Linked DNA regions of Homo sapiens: region 1 is linked to region 2. Evidence: fine-mapped expression QTL. Tissue or cell type: cerebellum. Region 2 holds a variant in brackets; the other region holds the start of a gene. All regions are shown on one strand. Distances are from middle to middle.

Region 1 (2,899 bases), 160 kb before region 2:
GGCTCTGAGCTGGCTTGGCACAATGTGTCAGGGTGAGGGGGCCCCTTAGGGGCCTCAAGCAGGAGGGCTGAGGGCACCGCTGGTTCGTCTGTTCATGGTGGGCGGCTTTGTGTGGCCACCAGTGCTGGGTGGTGTGGGTTTGGGCTGTTCTCCCTCCTGGCTCAGCACGGGCCCGTCAGCCCAGTGTCCTTTGGGCCTGCCCTTCCCCTAGCATCCCTGGTTGGAAGGGTGTCCTCACAGGGCTGTGGGCGGGCCAGGGCTGGCTGCTGGTTAAATTTAGTGTGGGGGGTGGGGCAGCTGCCCAAGGTCCACCTGCCACCAGGGCTGCCACTTGGACTCCCTTGCCAGGGGGCGGGCAGGGGCTGGCTCTGCCTGGGGCCAGGCCCATGTTAACCTGTGCCCCGGCCTGGGGGCCAGAGGGGCAGGCCTGCGCACGGGGAGGCTGTTGTGGCAGCGGAACAGAGACGTGCACGGTGAGAGGCCTGGGGGCCGGCTGTCCAGGGCTCCCGATGGCTTTTCTCCCAGCCAGCAGGATCAGAGGAGCCAAGGTCCGACTTGGGCCTGGCTGGTTGCCCACAGCCCTGCTCAGAGGGCCGGCTCCCTGACCCCCATGGTTCAGGTTTCGGTGCCCGACGCTGGGGTGGGCCAGCGTGGAGCCTGGCCTTTCAGCTCAGCAGGCCTGTGGAGGTGGGGCTCTGACGGCCTATCCCAGCTCGTTTCCTACTCTCTCCTCCAATCGGGAACAAGAGGGCTGGAGAGCTCAGGTCACCCCTAGCCTCGGGTGTGTCCCAAGGGCAACCCCCAGCTGGTGCCTGGTGAAAGGGCATGACAGCAGCCACGGTGTGAGCTGTCCCAGGGCTCAGGGCTGGACTGCCTGGCTCCAGCCCCCTCCCCCAGCCCCTCGCAGTGCTCATCAGGGACCAAGGTCCAGCTACAGAGCTCTTGCAGCCTCTGGGCCATAGCTGCCAGCTCTGGAGGGTCCAGATGGAACCCAGAGCCTGAACACCCCTCCCCTCCCCCCAGCACCCCCTGGATTCCTGAGGCCTGGCTCAGTTAATAGGAGACAGGTCCGCTGGCCCAAGCAAAGATGCGGGTGCCACGAGGGCCAGGCCTCGGCCAAGCCCTGCTGGGGTAAATCCCAGCAGCCCAGGCTCCAGTCTCGCCTCGGGGGTCCCTCCTTGCCAGCTCTGCCAGCCCCTCAGGGCTGCTGGGCACCCCTTCACCTCCTGAGCACCCCAGGTGCTCAGCCCTCTCCCCCTCCCCCCATGTCTAGTCCCTCAGAGCTGTCCGGACTGACGTCTGTACCTACCCCCCATGTGGGTCTCCTGCTCTCCCTTCGTGGGGACACTAGGCAGGCACTGGGCCTTGCCCCAAGCCCCGCCTGCCACCTCACCCACTGCCTCTGCCTCCCTGGGGCAGAGCTGTTCCCAGACGGGTGGGGCGGGGCCCAACTGTCCCCAGCTCCTTCAGCCCTTTCTGTCCCTCCCAGTGAGGCCAGCTGCGGTGAAGAGGGTGCTCTCTTGCCTGGAGTTCCCTCTGCTACGGCTGCCCCCTCCCAGCCCTGGCCCACTAAGCCAGACCCAGCTGTCGCCATTCCCACTTCTGGTCCTGCCACCTCCTGAGCTGCCTTCCCGCCTGGTCTGGGTAGAGTCATGGCCTCGAGCACAGGTGACCGGAGCCAGGCGGTGAGGCATGGACTGAGGGCGAAGGTGCTGACGCTGGACGGCATGAACCCGCGTGTGCGGAGAGTGGAGTACGCAGTGCGTGGCCCCATAGTGCAGCGAGCCTTGGAGCTGGAGCAGGAGCTGCGCCAGGTATGGCCCAGGGCCCCTCGCTGCCCTCCAGGTCACAATGGGGTGGCCGAGTTGGCCCCAGCCCCACTGGCACATGGGACAAGGGCTGAGGGGTTAGGTAGGGCACAGTCTCCCTGCCTGCTCCCCTCCCCTCCCAGGGTGTGAAGAAGCCTTTCACCGAGGTCATCCGTGCCAACATCGGGGACGCACAGGCTATGGGGCAGAGGCCCATCACCTTCCTGCGCCAGGTGAGGCTCCTGCACTGCCCGGAGCACCCCCCCACCCCCAGCCCATGTGCCCTGGCCTCAGCACTCCGTCTTCCCAGGTCTTGGCCCTCTGTGTTAACCCTGATCTTCTGAGCAGCCCCAACTTCCCTGACGATGCCAAGAAAAGGGCGGAGCGCATCTTGCAGGCGTGTGGGGGCCACAGTCTGGGTGAGAGCCAGGGCCAGGAGGAAGCAGAGGGCCGCCCTGCCACTGGAGGAGGGAAGTCCCTTGGGAGGGCTGAGGAGAACTTCACCTGTACTTCCCATCCTGTCCTGCCCGAGTCCAGGGGCCTACAGCGTCAGCTCCGGCATCCAGCTGATCCGGGAGGACGTGGCGCGGTACATTGAGAGGCGTGACGGAGGCATCCCTGCGGACCCCAACAACGTCTTCCTGTCCACAGGGGCCAGCGATGCCATCGTGGTAGGCTGGGCATGGGCACCAAGACATTCCTGACACTGCAGAGGGGGCGCCCAGGGTGGGGGACAGGTGCGGCCCCAGGCCTCGCCAACCCTGCCTTCCCCTTCCTTTCCGCAGACGGTGCTGAAGCTGCTGGTGGCCGGCGAGGGCCACACACGCACGGGTGTGCTCATCCCCATCCCCCAGTACCCACTCTACTCGGCCACGCTGGCAGAGCTGGGCGCAGTGCAGGTGGATTACTACCTGGACGAGGAGCGTGCCTGGGCGCTGGACGTGGCCGAGCTTCACCGTGCACTGGGCCAGGCGCGTGACCACTGCCGCCCTCGTGCGCTCTGTGTCATCAACCCTGGCAACCCCACCGGTGCGTTCCCCGCCGCCCCGCCCCACTCCCCCCGCGCCCACGTTGCGTTCCCCGCCGCCCCG
Region 2 (2,899 bases):
TTGACAAAAATGCCGATAGTGATACGAATAAGGTCCAGGCTGAGGTGGTCTCAGATGGAGATAACAAACTTGTTGAGAACTGGAGCAAAGATGACTCTCTTGTTATGTTTTAGCAAAGAGACTGGCAGCATTTTGCCCCTGCCCTAGAGATCTGTGGAACTTTGAACTTGAGAGAGACGACTTAGGGTATCTGGCAGAAGAAATCTCTAAGCAGCAAAGTGTTCAAAAGGTGACTTGGGTGCTGTTAAAAGCATTCCACTTTAAAAGGGAAACAGAGCATAGAAGTTCAGAAAATTTGCAGCCTGATGATGCAGTAGAAAAGAAAAACCCATTTTCTGAGGAGAAATTCAAGCCAGCAGCACAAATTTGCATAAGTAGCAAGGAGCTGAATGTCAATCCCCAAGACCACGGGGAAAATGTCGCCAGGCCATGTCAGAGACCTTCATGGCAGCCCCTGCCACCATAGGTGCAGAGGCCCAGGAGGAAAAAGTAGTTTTGTGGGCCAGGCCCAGGGTCCCTGTGCTATGTGCAGCCTAGGGACTTGGTGCCCTCTGTCCCAGCCTCTCCAATCGTGGCTGAAAGAGACCAACATAAAGCTCAGGCTGCGGCTTCAGAGGGTGGAAGCTCCAGGCCTTGGCAGCTCCCATGTGGTGTTGAGCCTACAGGTGCACAGAAGTCAAGAATTGAGGTTTGGGAACCTCCACCTAGATTTCAGAAGATGTATGGAAACGCCTGGATGCCCAGGCAGAAGTTTGCTGCAGGGATGGAGCCCTCATGGAAAACCTCTGCTAGGGCAGTGCAGAAGGGAAATGTGGGGTTGGAGTCCCTACTGGGGCATGGCCTAGTGGATCTGTGAGAAGAGGGCCACCATCCTCCTGACCCCAGAATGGTAGATCCACCAACAGCTTGCACCGTGTGCCTGGAAAAGCTGCAGACACTAAACGTCAGCCTGTGAAAGCAGCCAGGAGGGAGGCTATACCCTGCAAAGCCACAGAGGTGGAGCTGTCCAACCATGGGAACCCACCTTTTGAATCAGCATGACCTGGATGTGAAACCTGGGGTCAAAGGAGATCACTTTGAGCTTTAAAATTTGACTGCCCTGCTGGATTTTGAACTTGCAAGGGGCCTGTAACCCCTTTCTTTTGGCCAATTTCTCCCATTTGGAACTGCTGTATTTACCTAAAACCTGTACCCCCATTGTATCTTGGAATTAACTCGCTTGCTTTTGATTTTACAGGCTCACAGGCAGAAAAGACTTCCCTTGTCTCAAATGAGACTTTGGACTGTGGACTTCTGGGTTAATGCTGAAATGAGCTAAGACTTTGGGGGGCTGTTGGGAAGGCATGATTGGTTTTGAAATGTGAGGACATGAGTTTTGGAGGGGCCAGGGGTGGAATGATATGGTTTGGCTGTGTCCCCACCTAAATCTCAATGTGAATTGTATCTCCCAGAATTCCCATGTGTTGTAGGAGGGACCCAGGGGGAGGTACTCGAATCATGGGATCTGGTCTTTCCTGTGCTATTCTCGTGATAGTGAATAAGTCTCACGAGATCTAATGGGTTTATGGGGGGCTTCTGCCTTTGCTTCTTTCTCATTTTCTCTTGCTGCC[G/A]CCATGTAAGATGTGACCTTCACCTCCCGCTATGATTCTGAGGGCTCCCCAGCCATGTGGAACGGTAAGTCCAATTAAACTTCTTTTTCTCCCCAGTCTTGGGTATGTCTTTATCAGCAGCTTGAAAATGGACTAATACACATGGCTAAAGGCGATCAGTGCTGGACAACACCCGGAGTGCTCCAGTTCTCACAGCAAAGCCCCAATACAGTGTTCAAAGCGACCCAAACAGGCCTCTGCCCACCTCCCGTGAAAAAGAGGAAGATAAAATGCCTGCTGTGGGAAATGTCCAAGCCCCTCCTCCTTGGTCCTGTCCCTTTGAACCTTTGTAAACTTTGCTCAAAAAATGGTAGAACCTTTGCACGCAAGGCCAAGTTTCTGCTACAGATTAATTTTTCCATAAAACCATTTCGAACCAATCAATTTTAATGTTTTGTTTATTCTAAATATAAGAGTTCAGACTCACATTCTATTAAAATTTATCCCCAAAGTGAAAAAGAAAGAGACAAGGCAGATGCAGCACCCTGATGCTCCAAGCCCACCCGCACCCCCATTGCCTGTCCCCAGGCAGCCTGGATGCCCTCCTGCTCCCACCTCACAGGCTGCCCTCCAGCACTGCAGGCTCACTCTGACCCTCCCTCCAGCCTCTGCACTGGGCATTCCCTCTGCCTGCACTCCTTCCCCCACAAGTGGTTTACTTCCTTCACCTGCCCAAATGAAGTGTCTTTGTGACTGAGGCCCACCTGACCCCACCCCCTTCCCAATCTCCAGGCCCTCCCTCATCCTGTCTCTGCAGCACTGACACCTACCAACTACTGCAGATGTCACATGTCACGTGTCTGCTTTTCCCTGCCCTGGGAGAACATAAGCTCCAAGAGAGCAGGGGCTTGGCCTGTCCTCCTCCCTGGGATGTCCCGGCACCTGGGACATCTTCTGTGTACACTAAGTCTCAATAAACAAACTGTTTACACCCTAAGGTCACGGAGATGACAGGACAGGAGAAGAAGTGTGACTGTGGTAAGAGGGAAAGTTCAGGAGTCATGGCACCTGGACTTGAATCCTGGCTCCGCCTACTAGTTGTGTGACCCTGGTGGGTCACAGCCCTCTCCAACCTTGGTTTCCTCATCTATGAAACAGGACCAAGAGCACCCACTGCATGCATTGTTCTGAGGTATAAATTATATAAAAACACAGAATGTGTTCAGAGCATAAGCATCAGATTACAGTAACAATGCCAACAGCAATGAAAATGGGCAACATTTATCTTCAAAACATTTTTCCTAGACTTT

Alleles and levels. Alleles are on the strand shown, and positions count from the first base shown. SD is a standard deviation of normalised expression in the study named.
For the expression in cerebellum of the gene that starts at base 1,488 in region 1, allele A in region 2 goes with a higher level than allele G (moderate effect, 0.55 SD a copy in GTEx).

The links. PIP is the estimated chance that this variant, and not a neighbour inherited with it, causes the effect.
Region 1: GPT starts here. The variant in region 2 is the best candidate, but not a certain one, in a credible set for the expression of GPT in cerebellum (GTEx, PIP 0.59).

Annotation. Positions count from the first base shown.
Region 1 is chr8:144,502,653-144,505,551 of GRCh38, forward strand. GPT (glutamic--pyruvic transaminase) reads left to right here and starts at 1,488. Exons shown (of 11, transcript NM_005309.3): 1 at 1,488-1,814; 2 at 1,952-2,041; 3 at 2,119-2,227; 4 at 2,346-2,479; 5 at 2,594-2,837. The coding sequence starts at 1,653. It overlaps LOC101928953 (a long non-coding RNA gene), which reads right to left and starts at 2,822. Exons shown (of 5, transcript XR_007061149.1): 1 at 2,720-2,822. RefSeq lists a silencer at 214-508 and an enhancer at 1,136-1,796.
Region 2 is chr8:144,665,027-144,667,925 of GRCh38, forward strand. All of the region lies in intron 1 of ARHGAP39 (Rho GTPase activating protein 39), which reads right to left. Among named protein-coding and RNA genes, the nearest start is that of ARHGAP39, 19 kb to the right of the region's middle. The variant G/A (reference allele first, on the strand shown) is at 1,611.